Linked DNA regions of Homo sapiens: region 2 is linked to region 1. Evidence: fine-mapped expression QTL. A gene starts in region 1. The other region holds a variant in brackets. All regions are shown on one strand. Distances are between the middles of the regions.

The links. PIP is the estimated chance that this variant, and not a neighbour inherited with it, causes the effect. A credible set is the group of variants that fine-mapping cannot tell apart.
Region 2: its variant is the best candidate, but not a certain one, in a credible set for the expression of HEATR1 in whole blood (TOPMed, PIP 0.52).

The regions. Positions count from the first base shown.
Region 1 is chr1:236,602,214-236,606,607 of GRCh38, reverse strand. HEATR1 (HEAT repeat containing 1) reads left to right here and starts at 2,092. Exons shown (of 45, transcript NM_018072.6): 1 at 2,092-2,186; 2 at 2,481-2,654; 3 at 3,232-3,448. The coding sequence starts at 2,513. RefSeq lists an enhancer at 1,892-2,151.
Region 2 is chr1:236,624,530-236,628,923 of GRCh38, reverse strand. No RefSeq gene overlaps it. Among named protein-coding and RNA genes, the nearest start is that of HEATR1, 22 kb to the right of the region's middle. The variant C/T (reference allele first, on the strand shown) is at 2,364.

The DNA.
Region 1 (4,394 bases):
ATATTTACACCTACAGCAGTGAGTCCATCTGTACTCTTTCTCAGGCTCCATAAGTCTTAGGGATGGGCTTTATGCCAACGTGCTGAAGCCAATATTATAGTGAGGGAATACAAGAAATAAACAGGTAAACAAACAGACAAATCAGGTCATTTCAAGTAGTGATAATGGCTATGAAGAAAATACCAGCTTGGTACATCTGTCCGTCAGATAAAAATATATAATTCAAGATTATTACATTTTTTTTAAAACCAAAGCTTTTTTTTAAAAAAAAATTACATTTATGAACATCTGACTTGTTTTCCTTTTTACTTTCCAAAGTAAAATTCGGCATGGCACTATACACCATCACAGCTGACATAGGAAGGACTGAGTCAAATCTTTGTAGCACTTTTTCAAGTTTCACTTAAATAAAGCTTTTAAAAAATATATAGGGTATTTTTTAAGCAAAAAAAGCAAATTATCTTATCAATGAAACAGACCTGGTGTTCATTTCTTTTAAAGTACCGAAAGCTGATTGCTTCTGTAAAGGTAAAACTCCTGTGACATGTTAGAAAGAAAAAAAAAATTCCTTTGAGAGATATGTTTGTAAGAATGAAATAGGTACTACTAGAATTTTCATGTTATTCTCTGCAAGGCACTCAACACCACATGAAAAGAAGATTATTAACAGTCAGTAGAAATACTAATAACTGAAGAAAATATTTGGTTGTTTTAAATGCTTTTAAAGCAAACCAACAACAAAAGATTCTGTTTGTAAATGGGAGAGAATCTGCATGAGGTATAGACAACCAGGGCCTCCAAATTTGTAGCTGTGTTTCTGACATTCTCCAGGGAAGACGGTTACAGAAAGACTTGACCCCCTGGCCCCGCAGAGCTCTTCAGAGAAATTAATGCATCCAGAAAAGACAGAGCATCAGATCTCACTCCTTCGTCTGGAAGACGTCAGTTCATCCTAGTTCTAGCGCATACCGGTGTTTTGGAAACAGATTAGCTATATTCATACATAAGGATACTCTTCCGCAACACTATCTGTAGTGAGGCCAAGACCAGTGGTTGCGGGAATCTTCGCAAACAGGCAAGAGACAATTTTTAGGGGCGATGGAAACTGTCATTTTGACTGGGGAGGTCATTACACCTATACATGCATTTGCTAAAAGTCATCAAACTCTTCCACTGACGTGGGTGTAACCATTGTTTGTAAATTATACCTCAACAGGATTCGATTAATTTATTTATTGAGACAGTCTCGCTCTGTGGAGTGCAGTGGTGCAATCTTGGCCCACTGCAACCTCCGACTCCCGGGTTCCAGCGATTCTTCTGTCTCAGCTTTCCTAGTAGCTGGGATTACAGGCGCCCGCCACCACGTCCGGCTAATTCTTTTATTTTTAGTAGAGACGGGGTTTCGCTATGTTGGCCAGGCTGGTCCCGAACTCCTGACCTCAGGTGATCAGCTCGCCTGAGCTTCCCAAAGTGCTCGGATTACAGGCCGCGCCTGACTATGATTCGTTTTGAAAGAAAAAAATATATGCCATTTACCCCTCGGGAATGGAAACATAGAGGAGTGACAAGATCTCCCCCAAGCTCTGGGGCGGTGGAGTCCAGCATTTATAGATCGGTTTGCACTAGGAGCAGAAGCTCCTTTCACGACAATCTCGGCCTCTTCCCACTTTGTAGAGTGAGTAACAAGCTCGGAGAGATGAAATAATTTGGTGGCGTTAACCCGGCCGACAGGCGCCAGCGCCAGGATTTGAACCCAAACCACGTGACTTCACAACCCATAGCTTTCAACACTACGCGGTGCTGCTGGCACCTAGTAAAGGCTGGATCACTACTGAATGAATGATTCTGGCTACGGATCCTTAAAGCCCACAGAAGGCCCATCCAGAGACCGAAAGCTTCAGACACAAGCCGCAGAGCAGACCGCTAAACCGGAGCTACAGAGGCGAAGCTCAGACTTGAGCCTGAGTCCGGCGGGCTGAGGGGCGGGCTTTCGTCTCGGGAGGCGGAGCTGTCTCGTCGCATTCCCGGCAAGCTTGAACCTCTTCACTTGCCGTAGCGCCTGCAGCAGGAAGTTGCTCTACAGCATGCCTTAGGTTTCCGGGTGAGGGTTGGGCTCCTTGGTACCATGTGGGAAGCGCTGTGAAGAGTTGTTGCCTTCCAAGATATACCCAAATTCCCAGTTCCAGGTAAGCGGCACAGAGCCGCTTGATGTGGCTGCGGATGGGGGCGGCATATCGAGGGAGGGTAAGAGTTTTCCGGATATCTGCGGAATCAGGGTTGAAGGAAAGCCTTGGCGCGGTCGCCGCTACTGTAATTAGTTGTTAACGCTGCTGCCATCGTCTTTGCATCTCCGGGGTCCACAAATCTCAGGACACCCGCGTTGTGTGTCCATGACGGTGCTGAGTGCAGAAGAGAATTGTTTGTTTACGAGGCGCCTTATAATTTCGTAGAAACTTATCAAAGTGCTTACGTTTTTTTAGCCCGTGTCATTAAAACTCCGCTGGCGTGAAAGATGACGTCCTTAGCCCAGCAGCTGCAACGACTCGCCCTCCCTCAAAGTGATGCCAGCCTCTTATCTAGAGATGAAGTTGCTTCTTTGTTATTTGACCCTAAGGAAGCGGCCACAATCGACAGGGACACCGCCTTCGCCATTGGTGAGCCATCTTTTAACTTAGAAAAGCTCTTGGAAGCGTTTGTTTTCTGGATGTTACTGTTTTTTTTTTTTCCCCTTGTTTTCTCTTCTGTCCCGTCCTCTTCCTTAGCAGTTTCTAGCATGTTGATGTATATTTTTAAGGGAAAGAGAACATAACAGTCAGGTGCTTGGTGCTTGAAATGTTTATGAGTAGAGGTATCTGGATTTCACAGATGAAGAAACAAAATTAGAGAGGTCAACTAATATGTCAAAGAGAAGAACAGCTAAAAGGGGGATGGAGGCAGTGACTGGGGTGACGGAGAAGTCCTCTCAGAGGACTGGCCTAGTTATTGTAGGGGATATCCAAAAAAAAAAAAAAAAAAGTGTTCCCTGCCACGAAGTACTTTCTGTTCTAGTAGATGAGATAGGATTTACTCTAAAAGTTGAAAACTAGAAATCAGTGTTTGGGACTGTATTATAAATTATATGTACTTAAAGAATTCAGAAACTTCTTAGGGGTAAGTAAAACTGTAAAAGAGGGGTGGGATGAATTTGCTTACGAAGAATTGTTAAATAAACTGGCCTTTTTTGAAATTTAGGATGTACTGGCCTGGAAGAGTTGCTTGGAATTGATCCTTCCTTTGAGCAGTTTGAAGCACCGTTGTTCAGTCAGCTAGCAAAAACCTTGGAGCGAAGTGTTCAGACCAAAGCAGTAAACAAACAGTTGGATGAAAACATTTCATTATTCCTTATTCACTTGTCGCCTTACTTCCTGCTTAAGCCAGCACAGAAGTGTCTGGAGTGGTTGATTCACAGGTAGCTAATAGAATTACAGAAATAACTATGGGTTAATCACTTTGGTCTTGTAAAAAATTAAGTAGTTGAGAACTTATCAAATTAAAGCTGAAAAATTAGGTATATTAAGAGATTGATACAATGTCCATTGTGTGAGATAAGCATGCTCTTCTGCCTTTAAATTCTTTTTTGTTGATAGTGAAAAGTAGAACTACTGGTGATTTTGAGTAAATGGTCTAACCTCATTAGTTTTTTTTTGAGATAGAGTCTTGCTGGGCACTCAGGCTGGAGTGCAATATTGAAATCTTGGCTCACTGCAACCTCTGCCTCCCAGGTTCAAGTGATTCTCCCACCTCAGCCTCCCAAGTAGCTGGGATTACAGGCACCTGCCATAATGCCTGGATGAGTTTTGTGTTTTTGTAGAGATGGAGTTTCACCGTGTTAGCCAGGCTGGTCTTTAACCCCTGACCTCAGGTGATCCACCCGCCTCGGCCTCCCAAAATACTGGGATTACAGGTGTGAGCCACCTCGCCCAGCCTAACCTCGTTAGTTCTGAAGAGCCCATGCTACTTTGCCATTACAGCTTGTTCCTGCACACTTGAGGCAGTGAGTACTAAGCTGCTTTCTTGGCAAAATAACAAGATGGTTGGGGAAGCAGGCAATGTTATCCTCTGAAATACCATTGCTTGAGAAAAACAATGATAGCTAATGTGTTTTTGAGCATTTATACACTAGGCCCTGGTAAGCACTTTATCTGCATTATCTCATTTAATTCTCACAGCATTCCTCTGGTGAGATTATTTGTATTATCCTTGTTTTACAGTTGAGAAAACTGAGGCTTAGAGGGATTAAGTTTCTTGAGTCACACAGCTAGTAAGTGGCAGAGCTAGGATACAGCTGAAGTTTATTTCCAAGGTCTGATCTTTTATCTGCTTTGGGAATTGTCTCAGTAAGCTTAGTTTATTTT
Region 2 (4,394 bases), 22 kb before region 1:
GAATTTTATATAGATAGAATCGTGCTATTTGTATTCCTTTGCATCTGACATCTATTGCTTGATATTAGGCTTGTAAGAGTCTGTCATATTGCTGTGCGTTGCAATGGTTTGTTTGTTCTCATTGCTGAATAGTATTCCACTGTATGACAGTTTCACAATGTATATGTTTATTCTTCTGTTGATAAACATCTGCATCGGAAGCAGATTATGCTATTACAAAATATGCTGCTATGGACATTCTCAAACATGCCTTTCGGTGTTCGTACGCACACATTTCTCAACATTTCTGTTGAGTATATAGCATACCTGAGAGTTTCAGTAATGAGAAAACAATAATTTTACAGAATATTTGTACCAATTTGTACTTCCACCAGCAGTATAACAAAATGTCAGTTGTTCCACATCTTTACCAACATTTGGTATTGCCTGTCTTTTTAATATTAGCCATTCTGGTGGGTGTGTAGTGAAATCTCACTGTGGCTTTCATTTGACTGGTTACAAATGCTGTGGAGAACATACTTATATGTTTATTAGACACATTCAGATATTGTCTCTTTAAAAGTGCTTGTTCAAGTCTTTTGTTATTTTTTTCTATTGAATGTCTATTTTTTCTTTTTGATTTGAAGCAGTTCCTTAAATATTCTGCATATGAGTCATTTGTCAGATACATATGAATTACAAATATTTTCTCTGTTTTGCAGTTACTATTGCACTAATGATGTTTTTGGTAAACAGCCCATCACTACTCCTACATTGCCAGTTGCTAGACTCTGCTTCCCAATAGGGTCTCCCCATTTCCTCTGGGCCCTCTCTAATGCTGACTGCTGCCTGTAATCTTGCCTTCAGGGCAATGTCCCCTGCCGGCTGCACTGAACACCTTTAGAATCCAGTGCACCTGCTCCTGTCCTTCCAGGGCTGGTCCTGTCCTAGTGGGCAGATCTGGTTCCAGGTTCTGGCACCTTCCAGTCTCCTCAGGCCTCCCTGCAGTTAACTAGCTGTGCCCAATCGTGTTCTGAAAATAAGTTCAGGATGTCCAAACAATTGACTTATAAATGAACTTTTGGAACCCATGACTTTTTACACCAGAGGAGTCCTACACATTCTATTTATTTCTGCCTTAGTCACCTAGGATCAAGTACCTCCTGTAGCCAAAGGGGACTGGGACATTAAAATCATGATTGTGAATCACCAAGACACCCGTGCAAATTAGTACTAGCCCATCAATCCACAGAAGAAAATATACCATGGGAAAATGAAATCCTTATGCCAAATCGAGACATTGAGAAATTCAGCAAATAATTATTGAGTGCCTGATATGTGTCAGTCACTGTTCTAAATATTGCAGAAGTAACAAAAAGGAAAAAACCCAGACACCAATCTATGCACACATGGCACTCATTTTAGATGGAGAAACAGGTAGTAAACAAGCTAAATAAATAACACAGTTAGTATGTTAGGTAATGAGTGCTAAGGGAAGGGATATAGGAGTGTCCGATGGTGGTAATGGGTTGTTAGTAATTTTAGAGGGACTTCCAGGTAAGAGTTCACCAAAAAGGTGATGTTTGAGCAAAGACTTGAAAAAAGGAGATAGCTATGACATTATCTCAGGGAAGAGCATCGAAGACAGAAGGAACAGTGAATTCAAAGGCCCTGAGGTGAAAACATGTCTAGTGTTTGGAAAAACAGCAAGCAGAACCAGGCACAGTGGCTCATGCCTGTAATCCCAGAACTTTGAGAGGCTAAGGCAGGTGGATCACTTGAGGTCAGGAGTTCGAGACCAGCCTGGCCAACATGGTGAAACCCCGTCTCTACTAAAAATATGAAAAAAATTTGCTGGGTGTGGTGGCACACACCAGTAATCCCAGCTACTCAGGTGGCTGAGGTATGAGAATCAGGTGGCATGAGGTATGAGAATGAGGTATGAGGTGTTGAATCCGGGAGGCAGAGGTTGCAGTGAACCGAGATTGCACTACTGCACTCTAGCCTAGGCAACAGAGTGAGACTCCATCTCAAAAAAAAAAGGAAAGAAAGAAAAAGAAAATCAGCAAGCATCCAAGAGATGTAGATGGAATTATAGTTATAGCTGTTATAAGAAGAGCAGAAAGCAATAGGGGAAGAAGTCAAAGAGGTATAAAAGAGGTAAGGTCTTATAGGTCATTGACCTTCAATATGATGCAGAGAACATACTTACATGTTTATTAAACACATTCAGATATTGTCTTTTTAAAAGTGCTTGTTCAAGTCTTTTGCCCATTTTTTTCTATTGAATGTCTATCTTTTCTTTTTGATTTGAAGCAGTTCCTTAAATATTCTGCATATCAGTCATTTGTCAGATATACATGTCAGCTGTGCTAATTTGGTAT[C/T]GTGGATCTCAGAGGCCAAGTTGCCATATGTGTAGAAAAGAAAGATGGCTGTCATTTGAGTTGTTAAGAACAGCATGCTGCAATACCAAAACATCAAGCTGTACATCTCAAATATGTATGATTTTCATATGTGAATCACATCTCAATAAAGCTGTTAGGAAAATAAAATTACCATTAAGTTTAAAAAAAAAAGAAAAAAAGAAAAAAACAACCACAGTCGGGGCAAGGGCCATGTTACTAGGGCCAGGGATTTGGCCAATGAAGCAGGAACATAGAGATCCTAGGTCCATAAGGAAAAGAAGATTCAAGGAAGGCCAGGACATGGGAGGGAATGAACAAACTCCAGTCCTAGAGGTTTAGCAGAGACTAGCTGGCTTCTTGCAGTGAATTAATAAATGAGAAAAAAATCTGAGATCACAATAAAAGATCTTTACTGGTGCAAGGGTCACTTCTCACCGCTGTTTGACTGCTTTGGGTCATTCTTTAGTACCTTAAGTTTTTTATATTTTGTGAAGATTTTACTATTTTTTATCTGCAAGAGAGTAAGTTCAATCAAGCTATTGCACCATTACTAAAAGTGAGGCTTCTTTGACTATTTTTTTTAAGAGTTGGGGTTTGCTCACTCACCCAGGCTGGAGTACAGTAGTGTGATTATAGCTTACTGCAGCTTCGAACTCTTGAGCTCCAGGGATCCTCCTGCCTTAGCCTCCTGAGTAGCTAGAACCACAGGCACACTCCACCACGTCTGGCTAATTTTTAAAAATTTTTGCAGAGACTGGGTCTTTCTATGTTGTCCAGGCTGGTCTTGAACTCCTGGCCTCTAGTGATCCTCCCACCTCAGCCCCCAAGTAGCTGATTACAGGCAAAAGCCACCATGCCTAGCTCACTTTTACTATTTTTTACAATTCAAGATGTTGTCTATCTTTTTCAGCTACTCTATCCTGATTAATAAATGTTCTGTTAGTTTTGACTTATATTCTTCTTTTTGACTGGTCGTTCTCCTTAAATAAGATGTATTTTTCTTTGTTGGCTCCCTGAAGGCTCTGGTCTTATATTGAATTACCCAAGTTGGCAGTACTTTTCATGTAATGAAAGCTAAAGCTGTCTCTACTCCTGTGGTTGGCAGTGTAGAAGCAGGCAAGTTAACAATTCCAGTAAGGATCATGGACAAAGTCTTCTGTTCTGTTTCTTCTTACTTTCCTTGTCACAGGATCAGTAAACACTCGAGGCATTGTTAAACTTTATATTAGTTTTTTCTTTTGCTGTGTAACAATATTATCACAAACTTGCTGGCTTAAAACAACATAAACTTATTATTTCACAGTTTCTGAGGTTCAGGATTCCAGACACAACTAGACTGAGTCCTCTGTCTTAGGGCCTCACAAAATTGTGATCAAGATGTCATCTGGGCTGCAGGCTTTTCTGAGACTCGACTGGGGAAGGATCTGCTTCCGAGCTCATGTGGTTGTTAGTAGCATTTGTTTCTTTGTGGACCATTGGACTAAAGGCCTCTGTTTCTTGCTGGGTATTAGCTGAAGGAGTTCCTTAGGTCCTTGCCATATTAATCTTTCCAGAATCATTTGTTTTCTCAAAGCCAGCAAAGTAGAGTCTCCTGGAAAGATTGATGTTACAATCATATGTAATGTAATCACTTACATGTAATCACACATATTCTGTCATGCAGGCTGTATTCTGTGGATTGAATCAAGTCGCAGGTCCCACCTACACTCAAGGGAAGGGATTAAATCCAGGAGGCAGGGATTACGGAGGTCATTTTTAGAATCAATATGCCACAGTCTGCCCTGATTCCCAGTGATTCATGCCTCTCCCACATGAAAATATATTCACCCCTCTTAAGGTTCCTAAGAGTCTCATCCCACTGCAATGTGTGCTTGAATTCAGAATTTCAAAATCTAAATAAGATCCAGGTGCAGGTGAGGCTCTTTAGATCTGGTTCCTCTCCATCTGTGAGTCTATAAAACTAGAAGTTGGGGGAAAAAGAAATCAAGATCCACAAAAGTATGCCAGTTC